Regions from separate parts of the Homo sapiens genome. Here all the other regions are reported to be linked to region 1. The links are microRNA targets in miRTarBase. Many come from high-throughput screens and were not tested one by one. Region 1 holds a microRNA gene; each other region holds the end of a gene's coding sequence.
The links. Region 1 holds the annotated microRNA hsa-miR-4451 (UGGUAGAGCUGAGGACA, at 3,023-3,039, shown strand). A microRNA usually pairs through its seed, bases 2 to 8, with sites in the 3' UTR of a target mRNA and lowers its output. Matches are read on the target gene's strand: a 7mer-m8 pairs with bases 2 to 8, a 7mer-A1 pairs with bases 2 to 7 and ends in A, and an 8mer does both.

Region 1 (4,221 bases):
CCAAACCAAGTAGGTTGAAAATTGAGTAAAATACTACTTTAGCTAAATATTACTATTTTTTGAGCTGGGAAAAATGGACAATATAATACAGTGGACAGGAGCATGGGCTTTTGAGTTCAGCACACTTAGTTTTTAACACTGGCTTCATTATGTTAACAGTTCCCATTCACTCAACAATACACATTTTTAGCCGTTAACTATATGCCAGGCAAAATGCTTGGCATTGGTAGTAAATTAGGGAGCAAAACACATATTATTTTTCCCTTACAGTTTAACGAGGGAGATGGACTTTAATCAATTCATCTTACAAATAACATAACTACATACAATGGTAAATCAGTCCAGGAAAAATTCAAGAATCTATGCAAGTATATTTTAGATGTAGACAATCTTAAAAATGGTATAAAATTGCCAGGGAAAGAATGTTGTCCTAAGGTAGATGGGAGCATGCTGCCATTTATAGAAGGGTAGTTGCTGGATGATAGAAAGCCATAGAAAGCAAAAAAGTGTAAGAGCAGAAACAAAAAAACCAAACATCGCATGTTCTCACTCATAGCTGGGAATTGAACAGTGAGAACACTTGGACACAGGAAGGGGGACATCACCCACCGGGGCCTGTTGTGGGGTGGGGGGATGGGGGAGGGATAGCATTAGGAGATATACCTAATGTAAATGACAAGTTAATGGGTGCAGCACACCAACATGGCACATGTATACATATGTAACAAACCTGCACGTTGTGCACATGTACCCTAGAACTTAAAGTATAATAATAATAATAATAATAAAAGAAAGATGTCAGAATATTCTGGAGAATTCAGTGAAGAGGCATTTGAAAAATTTCAGACAAGAGATAATAGTTGCCTGAAATTAGAGAGTGGTAGTAGTAGAGATACATAGTAGAGATAATGATTTCTATATTTCTGGCTTTTGCAACTGCATAGAAGAGGGTGACAGTCACTGAGCTGGGGAATACATAATGAGAGCCAGATTTACTTGCATTTTAATTTGACTAAGTTGAGTTTAAGACATCTTTGAGATAAGTGGAAATGTCAAATAAGCTTTTGAATGTATCTGAAGCTCAGAGTGTCCTAGATTAGAAATATTACTCCGATATTCATTGGCTTACAGTTGGTTATTGAAATCATAGGCCTGGATGAGATAGCCTGGAGAAAGAGAGTACTAGAGTCAGAAGAGAAGAAATTATTGGATAAATCTTTTTAAAAACTCTAATATTTAAAGGTCAATTAGAGTCAGCAAAAGACATTCAGACAACAGAGAAATTAGGGAAAAACCTAGAGAAAACAAAGAAACAAAGGAAAGAAGGTGCTTCAAGGAAAGAGTGGTCAATAGTGATGAACACTTCTAGAAAGTCAAGTCACTGAAAAGTGAACATTATCAAACACGCAGCTTGTGAGTCATGTAAGTGGAATGCTGGGTGCATCAACCAGGCTGCAGTGGGTACAGTGAAGAAATAGATTCAGTATAGACAGTAGGCAAACAAAAAAATAGAATAGCGGGAAGTCAAAGTACTTTTTTTAATGACACAGACTTTTAAGTATATCTCAGCACTGAATGAAATGATCCACTAAAGAGAGAAATTTAAAGATAGAGAAAGGATAGCTGGGCGTGGTGGCTCATGCCTGTAATCCCAGCATTTTGGGAAGCCGAGGCAGGTGGATCACCTAAGGTCAGGAGTTCGAGACTAGCCTGGCCAACATGGTGAAACCCCATCTCTACTGAAAATACAAAAATTGGCCGGGTGTGCTGGCAGATGCCTGTAATCCCAGCTACTCAGGAGGCTGAGGCAGTGGAATTCTTGAACCCGGAAGGCAGAGGTTGCAGCGAGCCAAGATCATGCCATTACAATCCCACCTGGGTGACAAGAGCAAAACTCCATCTCAAAAAACAAACAAAAAAAAAAAAGAAAAGGAAAAGAAAGAAAAGGAAAGAAAGAGAAGAGAGAAGAGATAATCAAGAGAAGGCTTATCACAACTATGTCTAAGTCTACCTTGTTTTCACAGCTATAAAATGGGGAAAAGAATATCTACCTCATAAGATTATACTACCAATTAAATAATATGGTGCGGGTAGAATGCTTAGTAAAATTTCTGGCACACAGAATGTGTTTAATAAATTGGTGCTTAAGATGAATCTAGCAGCTAACATACATATTAGTCTTATACATATTAGATGCTCAACAAGTATTCGTTAAATCTTGAGTGAACATGATTCTGGCACATAATTTTTGATTATTGGGAATATAAAAGATTCTGATGCATCTTACTGTATACTGGGTTATAGCTACACCTTGGATATTCACTGATTATAATGATGATATATGATGTTTGCTCTCTGATGATGTTGATGTTTTGGGTATTTGTTTTCACAGGGTACTATTTTTCTGCCTGGAAATAAAGTTTCTGAGCATCCCTGCAATGAAGAGAACCCAGGGAAGTTCCTTTTTGAAGTAGTTCCAGGTAAGATATTTTCCTAGTCTGATTAAATTATTGTCATCCTGTGTTGGTAAAGGTGAAGATGGGTCAGACAGGTTTCATTCTTTTTTGAATCATGACTGAGAACCTTAATTTGAGGCTTGGTTAGTGTTGACGCAGATAATGACTGCAGGTTTATATACTAGTACAAATGAATGCACTCACACACACATACTCTGACCACATAACTACTGGATTTTCATTTGTCCATGAGACTCCATAGTTGACCACAAGTCATGATACAGTATTTGTTCAGGACTATTGGAGATGAATTTGATTTTACAGCGCTCTTGTGATGTGAAATTTGACAAGGGGTTATAGGTTGAATGCTTTGCCCAGTGGAATCACTGACATATTTCCTCACAAAATTGTATCTTCAAGGAGGTTTTGCAAAAAACAAAAAAAAAAACAAAAAACAAACAAACAAAAAAAAACAACTCTTACTACTTAATACTTGTAATACTGACCAAGTATTACAGTTCTGTACCTCAGCTTTGCTCCCAACCAACCACTTCCACATGTTTTGCTGGTAGAGCTGAGGACAGCTCTGCCAAGACATCAAATCCCTCAGTTAAACTTTTGAAACATCCTTTCGTTTTTCCTAGTCATCTGTATTCATTCCTCTTAGTGAACCTGATCTCCACTAAAGTCTTTGACTAACCCAGCAACAATTCCTCCAAGGCCATGTTGTCTACCTCTTTGATCAATTCTTCAACTTTTCCTTATCCCTCAATGTAAGAAAAAGGGAGGTAGGAATCTGGCTCCGGTTGACCGTTTGTGTAATATTGATATTGATTTGATCACAGTCTAGGGTGGATGTGAATTTATTTGGGTAAGTAATGTGGAGTTCTTATCAATAATGCAGTCAATAAAATGTATTTTTCCTATATTTATATTAAATGCTGGGAATCTAAAATGGAAAAGCATATTTTCCCCTCGATGAAAACAGCTGTGGCACTAAGTTCATCTGGCTCATGATGGAATCCATGACTAAATGTGAATTAATGCAGCTGAAGTGCAGAAAGGTTAGTCAGATGCAATGTGTTATTTGTTTCCCTCCAGGGAGAACATATTTTAAGAAACCTGAATCTTATTTGCCTTATTAAAATCCTTTTATTCTTACTTCTTAGTGGAATACCCTGTATAGAACCAGATTCCAGATGTTACAAAGTCTTTGAAGTATCAGTAGAGGAAATGTCTTTTCCGATTTATTCTCAGACAATAGCGCATGTTGGCTTTTAAATCAGCGTGGTATTGAACTGATGGTTGACTCTTTATCTCCAATAATGCTAGAGGTCTACTTTTCCATTCAGTCTGCTAGCTGCAAGGAGGTTTCATCTTTTGGTGAAGAAGTTCTCAAGTAATATAGACGGATATTTTCAATACTGTTTTAGAGAGAGCCATGTCTTCAAGACCAGGAAGTAACAGATAAAACCTCTTCTCCAACATTGCTATTCTAAATCATCTGTTTCACATGCAGTGCGTATGACATAATGGCTTTTGATGAACAAAGCCTAAGAAGTTTAAGACTGTGTAATATGGAATATGAAGGTTGTCCTTTCAAACAAATTTATAGGAAATTCAAGCTTGCTTCTGTAATTATGGACTTAAATATAGTATGTGAGTAGATCATTTGAAAAGATGCTTCCTGAATTATTAATACAGTATGTAATAGCTGCTAAATTAGGTTTTATAATTCTAAATCATCTTACGGAGTGTGAAGAGA
Region 2 (4,221 bases), not on the chromosome of region 1:
TAAAAATCCAAGCATAGTTTAAAATATGATGTCGATATTACTAGTCTTGAGTTTCTAAGAGGGTTCTTTATGTTATACCAGGTAAGTGTATAAAAGAGATTAAGTGCTTTTTTTTCATCACTTGATTATTTTCTTTAAAATCAGCTATTACAGGATATTTTTTTATTTTATACATGCTGTTTTTTAATTAAAATATAATCACTGAAGTTTACTAATTTGATTTTATAAGGTTTGTAGCATTACAGAATAACTAAACTGGGATTTATAAACCAGCTGTGATTAACAATGTAAAGTATTAATTATTGAACTTTGAACCAGATTTTTAGGAAAATTATGTTCTTTTTCCCCCTTTATGGTCTTAACTAATTTGAATCCTTCAAGAAGGATTTTTCCATACTATTTTTTAAGATAGAAGATAATTTGTGGGCAGGGGTGGAGGATGCATGTATGATACTCCATAAATTCAACATTCTTTACTATAGGTAATGAATGATTATAAACAAGATGCATCTTAGATAGTATTAATATACTGAGCCTTGGATTATATATTTAATATAGGACCTATTTTGAATATTCAGTTAATCATATGGTTCCTAGCTTACAAGGGCTAGATCTAAGATTATTCCCATGAGAAATGTTGAATTTATGAAGAATAGATTTTAAGGCTTTGAAAATGGTTAATTTCTCAAAAACATCAATGTCCAAACATCTACCTTTTTTCATAGGAGTAGACACTAGCAAGCTGGACAAACTATCACAAAAGTATTTGTCACACATAACCTGTGGTCTGTTGCTGATTAATACAGTACTTTTTCTTGTGTGATTCTTAACATTATAGCACAAGTATTATCTCAGTGGATTATCCGGAATAACATCTGAAAGATGGGTTCATCTATGTTTGTGTTTGCTCTTTAAACTATTGTTTCTCCTATCCCAAGTTCGCTTTGCATCTATCAGTAAATAAAATTCTTCAGCTGCCTTATTAGGAGTGCTATGAGGGTAACACCTGTTCTGCTTTTCATCTTGTATTTAGTTGACTGTATTATTTGATTTCGGATTGAATGAATGTAAATAGAAATTAAATGCAAATTTGAATGAACATAAATAGAAGTGATTTATTTTTTTATTATCTTAAAGATAGGAAGGAATTAGTATACGTATCAGGTGTATAAATGGTTTAAATTTATTTTAACATGTCAGATGTGTTCAAGTTGTCATATAAATAAACTATGTATGTAAGGAATGGGTTAAAAGCTGTTCTGCTGAGAAACTGAAGCTATTTAAGTATATAACAAGTTTTAGTATTGATTTTTAAGTTAGATGTTACACATCTTTGATTTTCAAGTTATGTCAGATAGTAGATATGAATTGTTTACTTAAAAAAATACATGTAACAATCTACGTGAAAGCTAGCTTCATAAAAAACTCTAGGAAGACCTTCTTGTGCTAACAATCAACAATCTGTTCAGCTACACTTGGTCAGCTACATTTGATAATTTGATATGTATGCACAAAATAACGTAGTGAACAAATGTGTTTTAACTAATGTCTCAATATATCTAGTGTAAGCTGGGTATTTTGCATTAACCACTTCTTTTCTGTGAGGTAATTATACCACACTTGCCAAGGGGATTTCTCTACAGAAGCTCTCAAACTGATCTTACCTTGCTATACAACATAGTAGCCTATCAATACTGGTAAAACAATCTTTTAGAAGCCATGATCTGAATTCACAGAGTAAATGAGTTTCTGAATCTACATTACCTGTTTTTGAGGTGAAGGAATAGAGGGATGGAAGAAATGCTTCCAGTTCATCAGCATTTTTATTGGATGGCATAGCTCCATTAGATTTTCTCCCTTTTCAATTTATAGGTAAACTGCATTCCAAAAAAAAACCCCACCATGCACCTCCTTGGTTATGTAATCACATTCATTAAGAAACAGTGCTGTCTGAATAGTTACAGAGTAAGCAAATGTATTAAATAGGTATTCTAATAGGGCTGAAGTAAAATGCTATTCTTGTATTTGAACAGGAAGTCATCTTGGCTATCCTTCACAGCCGAATTGTAATCCCACATTGCTTTTCTCACCCATCCTCTGCCGTATACCTAAATAATACAACTATTAGCATCACCACAAAGCCATTTAAATAATATTTGTAGTGGGTCTCAAAGTAGATAACAGAGTAAAATATACTGTAATTGAATATAGTTGTACTTACAACCTGGTAGTATTTACCTGGAGAGAAAAAAATGGTACAGGCTTCCTAATGTTTGTTTGTCAATTTGGATGGCTGTACAGTCATGGAAGTGCCTTCTATAACCAGTTGGTCAGTTTGCTAAACTAAACAATTCATTTGCTAGTTTAGCTTTTGTCTTATCAGTACAGCAAATCTGTTTTCTACCTCTGCTTCCTAAGTTCTTTCTACCACCTTTTCCTCGACTACAAACTGATAGATGTACTCTAAACTTGGATATAAGCACTAGCAGCCCTTCAGACATGTTTTAGATTTCAGATTCCTCCTTAGAGGTAACAAGGGGAGAAAGTGCTTCATTCTCTTTTCTAGCACCCTGCACAAATACCTAGAGGCGAACAAACCACACTATCAAAACCTCATGACCACCTCTCAGTGCGAGCTTCAATCTTCCAATTGATGGTGATTCAAGCATAAAATTCCAAAACTTTTATGGAGAAGACTAATTATAAGGGCAATTTTTTATAAGATTTTAGGGCATCTGTCTTGAAACTTTTTTCTTTTAAATAGAGATGGGATGTTGCCCAGGCTGGTCTTGAACTCCTGGGTTCAAGCAGTCCTCCTGCCTCTGCCTCCCAAAGTGCTGGGATTACAGGTGTGAGCCACCATGCCTGGCCATTTGTCTTGTTTTCTATACTATTCAAATCATCAAGTAAGCCAGCTGTTTATAATCCACATGAATTATTTTAATAGTTACTTCGAGATACTCCATGGTACTATACAAAAAGCATGATCATGAACATTAAAGCTGATGGCAGGAAGAATTTATGACGTCCAGAGACAAAATGAATTTAAATCATTTATTTTCACTTATTACTAATCTTACTACAGAGAATAATACAATACTATAATGTATCATCCTCAGTAAATTAATCTTCACTTAGAAAATGTTACTGATAAAATACAACATTTAGAATTTTCATTTAAAAATACAAATTTTATGAAAATATTAAGAATTTTTAGGATGGGAATTATAAAAGTCAATGCTGAACAAAATTCTACTTTTAGATAGTATGTATCTTAAAATATTATGAAAAATATTCTTTATTCTGAAAACAATGTCAGGAAAGAATACCTGAGTTCTCTAAAACCACTAGTTCTAATTTCAAATTGCTGTTTTGGTAACATAAAGAAAACACATTTACAATTTAACACTGCAGTTACCTGTCAAATAATTAGAATAGAATAAATGTTGCATATACATTAGGTTGAACATTATATATATTTTAAAACACAGGGTGGTTTCATTTAATCTTTTGGTGAATTGGATCATAAGTCCTACATTCTAAAACCATCTGGAAACATTTTTCTGGTAGCCCTGAAAATCCATTCTGATGCCTTATCAGTAGTCATTATGACCAAATGACATTAGTATTTTGTGGCCTTGATAGTTTATACAACTTAATATATTTGAAGGTGTGATGAAGTGGCTCCATCCTTCCATTTGTTTATATGGTCTGAAATCACAGTTCTGCAGAGTGGACATGTTTTCTCTCTGTTAAACCATAAGGTCATGCACTCTTCACAAAATATATGCTGTAATGGAATTAAGAATTAGATTTGATATTTGATAATCATTTTAAATCCATCACATTGTAGGGAATGAAAGGGATTCTTTTTTTTTTTTTTTTGAGATGGAGACTGAAGTCTTGCTCTGTCACCCAGGCCGGAGTGCAATGGCACCATCTCGGCTCACTGCAACCTCCGCCCCCGACTGGTTCAAGTGATTCTCCTGCCTCAGCCTCCCAAGTTGCCGGGATTACAGGTGACCACCACCACCATGCCCAGCTAGTTTTTTTATTTTTAGTAGAGACAGGGTTTCACCATGTTGGTCAGGCTGGTCTTGAACTCCTGACCTCAGGTGATCCACCCACCTCAGCCTCCCAAAGTTCTGGGATTACAGGCGTGAGCCACTGTGTCCAGCCTGAAAGGGATTTTGAAGAGCACTAATCCCCTCATTTTACAAT
Region 3 (4,221 bases), not on the chromosome of region 1:
CACATCTGTGCTGGGCAGAGAAGTTTGGGCGTCCAGGTCCTCCAGGAGCCCAGCCTGGGAACACCTCTAGGAGTGTGGAGACCCCGCCAGGCTTCTCTTGGGCACCTCAGGTCTCCCTGCACAGGGCCTCCTCCCCCACAGCCCCATGGTCTGACACCCCCTCTGCCCCACAGTGTTCAGCCTGCAGGACCTCTGCTGCCGGGCCATCGTCTCCTGCACCCCCGTGCACCTCATCGACAAGCTTCCACTGCCCGTCACCATCAAGAGCCACCTCAAGTCCTTCTCGATGGCCAACGGCATGAACGCGGTCATGATGCACGGCCGTTCCTACTCCCTGGCCAGCGGGGCCGGGGGCGGCGGCAGCAAGGGCAACAGCCTCAAGAGGTCCAAGTCCATCCGTCCACCCCAGAGCCCCCCCCAGAACTGCTCGCGGAGTAACTGCAAGATCTCCTAGCGGGGATGGGCGGGGCCGCCTGTGCAGATGCCAGGAGGGCTCGAGCTGGACACTCCTGGCTGGACGCCAGGCCAGTGCCGCCTACGTGGAGACTGTCCACACAGCTGCCTCAGAAGCGCCGGGCTTTCCTCACACCTGAGCCGGGTGCGAGGAGGAGCATGCACGGACCAAGCGCGGCAGGCGGGAGGAGGGGGCGCGGCTGGGCTGCTGGTGCTTCCGGGAATCTTGGTCGGAAACAAGCCGGGCCTCCCCAGCTGCCTGGGCTTGACCGGCGGGGAGCCTGGTTGGCCTTTCTTATTTATATAGAGAACACTTCACTTTTTTGTACATTTTTAAGGGGCCTTCAGGGAAGCCTGGGTGTGGCCCGGTGGTGGTGCACTGGTGACTTCATGGCCACGCCAGCTGCGGGGACGCACTTGGGACTCCTCGAGAGGGGACTCGCGGCCGCGATGGCAAGGCATCCTGTGAATTCATGCGCTGCGAGTGGCGGGGCTGCCCAGAGGCCGGGGGAGCAGACAGGGCCGGTGCTCCCTCTGGAAGCTTGGGTGACCGGGGCCCTGGCTCCCACGGGATGGAGGGTGTGGTCCTGTGGTCAGAGCCCAAGCAGCACTCAGGAGAGGGGAGAAAGGAGGTGCACCTGGCAGCCCACATTTTTGTTGCTCCCCAAATCCCTCCCCACGTGGGGATGAGAACCTTCCTGCTGTGATGTGACACCTTCGGGGACATTGACCACTCAAAACTCAGATCATCTCGCCCACCCTGGAGAGTGCAGAGCTATCTGTAGACTTAGGAATACTTGATGGGCAGCGGTGCAGACCCCGGGCACCTGCGTGCAGCCTCCTGTTCTCGGCAGCTTCTGTCGCTGGCCCTGGGGTCCCCACAGCTGCAGCTCTCCTGTGAGGTTGCACGGCATCAGAACCATCCTGACCTTCTTAGGGACGTGCCTGGAACCACCTCGTCCACGTCCACGTCCACCTGGGGGCCTCGGGAGGCTAGGCCCCTCCTCAAAGGCCCACCAGCCCGGCGCTCATGCTGAGCCCCAGGCACGCAGGGCCGGCCACCTCTCTCCTGAAGCCATTGGCCGCTCCTCCACCCAGTGCTTCTGCCCATGCCTGCCCCAGCAGCCCCTCTGCACGGTCACCATCGCCTGGGCCTGCCCACAGCACTGGTGCTCACCTCTACCTCCTGTCCTCAGGCCGTGCGGCACGACATGGCCAGCACGCAGAAGGAGCCCTCCCGGGACCCAGGACCCCCCGTGGTGGACTCCGCGGCACATGCTTCCCAAGGTGGTCCCACGGAGGGTGTTACTGGGCACCAGTGGACTCGCCCCATGGCCCGTTCCTGGGAGATGAGGGCCGTGGCCTGCATGAACTACCAGATGAGTAAGGGAACCCCAGGCAGGCGGCCCTGCCACAGCCCCCAAAGACACTGGCCTCCTGCTCCAGCTTCCCTGTCCTGGCCCCACCTGTCCTGTTGCTGCCAGCAGGGCCCTTGTTTGGGATTATGAACAAACCTCACAGACTTTGAGGACCTGGATGGTCCTGCATTCACGGCATCAACACTACCCGCGCTGCTGTTAGACACTCCGCCATTCCTGGTTCTCTCCGAACCGTTCTTTGTACAGTAAATGTAATTCAGCTGTGGTCCCCACGTTTTGCTGTGTCTGGTGGGGTGGGTCTGGCAGTGGCGGTGCCCCGTGCCAGGGGCCAGTGCTGCTTCATACCCGGCAAACTGACCTCTGGCCTTTGTTTTGCCTGCTGTTCCCTGCGCTGACCGGGCTGACCTGCCGCGGTTGGCTGGGTTCGCCTCAAAGTGAGGGCTGGAGCTGGGCTGGAGCAGCTGGGCCTGGTCACGGCCATTCTCCTCTTCCCGGTGGATGGAATCCCAGCTGGGCTGTGCTGAGCCCTCGCTCACAGTCCCCGGCAGCAGATGGCCTGGGGCGGACTGTCCCCAACAGCAGCAGGACTCCAGAGGGCCAGGTCCTCCAGTCAGTCGGCCCGCTCAGCAGAGCCGCCTGCACGCTGGCCAATCTGGTGTCTGCTATGCCCGGCCCAGGGGGGTGTGGACGCCCCGGAGGTCACAGCTGAGCTGGAACGGGGCACTCCAGTTGGTACAGGGACCAGACCACAGCCTCTGGCTCAGGTGCCTCCCTGTGCTGTTTCGTGGGCATGTCCGGGCCTTAAGCCCCTCCCTGGCAGCTCCAGCCCAGCCGCCTGCTGCTGGGTCTGGCCTAGCTACCCCCACCCCCACGCTATCAGGGCCCACCCCCAGTCTCCTTGTAGAGCAGGGACTGGCGCCTGGAGCCGTCTCCGGGTCTCATTCTGACCAGACCAGGCTCCTGTTACCCTGCCTCCTGGGTCAGAGGTCAGACACAGGGTCAGGGGGACACTCCCATCCGGTCTCAAGAGAACCACTCCCTGAGGCCCCAGACATCTGGAGCCACAGAGGGTTTGGAAGGGTAGATTCCAGGCAGCCTTTTGTCCTGCTGCACCAGGCAGGCCAGCCCCCTGCCCTCCCCAACGAAGAGGAGCCAGCCTGGGGATGTGTGCCCCGCCGACGGGGGGCTGGGGCAGGGCAAGGCTCTGGTGCCCTGGGACACTTGCTCTTTTCAGCTGCAGACGCCCTTGCACTTGGCCTTCCCTCGGGCGGTGCCATCCCACGCGGAGCCACGTCCAGGGCTACACGGTGCGTGGGCCGAGGCTCCGGCATCAGCGTTTCGGGCTGTTCTTATGCTTGTGGTGGCCACAGGCCTCTTCCTGCTGCACCTGCCCCGCCTTGGGGACAGGCCTGAGCCCCAAGCCCGCTGCCTGGTTTCAGGGATGGGGTCTCTGGGAATGCAGTCCTGCCGGGTTGGGCCCCACTCCAACAGGGGCAGCAGAGCAGAGGAGGCCGGGCTGTGCTGGGCGTCCTGCAGACCCCTGTGCCCCTGAAACAGCCATGGAGGGGGGAAGGAACCTCGGAGCGGAGTGAAGCCCTCGGCCGCACGTGACCGTTGCCAGCCTGGACCTGGCCCGGGGGACCCAGGCTGTGGTCAGCCACGCTCTGCGGGGAGGGCCCGTGCCTGCCACCCCCATGGCATAGGAGCCTGGGGTCCAGAGGGCGCCAGGGACAAAAGCTGGGATCTGCTGGCCCTGCCCCCACCCTACTGAGGGTCGTCAAGGAGATTGATCTCAGCCCAGGGGTGGACGAAGGGGTTCAGGTTACAGGGTCCCCTCCCCTCCCCCTCTCCAGCCAGAGCCAGCCCTTCCCCGCCCCGGTGACCCTCATGGCCAGTGGCTCTGTGCTCATGGGCCTCTGGCCCCTCCCCAACCTCCTCCCCTCTGCCCTGTGCTGACCAGGGCCTGGGAGCCCCCGCACGGTTCAGACAGAGGGGCCAGGCTGAAGCTGGAGAGGAACCAGCGTCACACAGACGGCCTCTGAGAACTTGGAGACCCCGTTACCCACCCAGCAGGGGTGTCAGGACAAGCATCTGCTGCAGGCTTCAGCCTCAGGGGCAAAAGGGAGCCCCGGGGTCCTGGTGGGGGCACCGACCACAGGCCCGGAGGGTGGATGCCTGCAGGAAGCTGGGCTCTGTGGAGCCCGAGGAGGGGCTGGTGGCCACACCCCCCGGCCCCCTGGCTCGGCGGCCCTCATGCCCGCCCTACGTCCACTCCTGCCGCTCCTGCTCCTCCTCCGGCTGACCTCGGGGGCTGGCTTGCTGCCAGGGCTGGGGAGCCACCCGGGCGTGTGCCCCAACCAGCTCAGCCCCAACCTGTGGGTGGACGCCC

Region 2: the mRNA of RNFT1 is a reported target of hsa-miR-4451. The part of its 3' UTR that is shown has no 7-base or 8-base seed match.
Region 3: miRTarBase lists RAB40C as a target of hsa-miR-4451. Seed matches in the 3' UTR shown: 7mer-m8 at 1,631-1,637.

What each region holds. Positions count from the first base shown.
Region 1 is chr4:85,719,493-85,723,713 of GRCh38, forward strand. It overlaps MIR4451 (microRNA 4451), which reads left to right and starts at 2,976; the gene lies at 2,976-3,041. ARHGAP24 (Rho GTPase activating protein 24) reads left to right here. Exons shown (of 10, transcript NM_001025616.3): 3 at 2,393-2,480. LOC124900728 (a long non-coding RNA gene) reads left to right here and starts at 2,498. Exons shown (of 2, transcript XR_007058169.1): 1 at 2,498-3,520; 2 at 3,626-4,221.
Region 2 is chr17:59,949,322-59,953,542 of GRCh38, forward strand. It overlaps RNFT1 (ring finger protein, transmembrane 1), which reads right to left. Exons shown (of 9, transcript NM_016125.4): 9 at 2,919-3,790. The coding sequence ends at 3,656. It overlaps RPS6KB1 (ribosomal protein S6 kinase B1), which reads left to right. Exons shown (of 15, transcript NM_003161.4): 15 at 1-1,253. Among named protein-coding and RNA genes, the nearest start is that of RNFT1, 13 kb to the right of the region's middle.
Region 3 is chr16:627,169-631,389 of GRCh38, forward strand. It overlaps RAB40C (RAB40C, member RAS oncogene family), which reads left to right. Exons shown (of 6, transcript NM_021168.5): 6 at 174-2,100. The coding sequence ends at 454. It overlaps WFIKKN1 (WAP, follistatin/kazal, immunoglobulin, kunitz and netrin domain containing 1), which reads left to right and starts at 3,817. Exons shown (of 2, transcript NM_053284.3): 1 at 3,817-4,221. The coding sequence starts at 4,086. RefSeq lists enhancers at 239-972, 2,442-3,175, 2,701-2,995, 3,176-3,910 and a silencer at 359-609.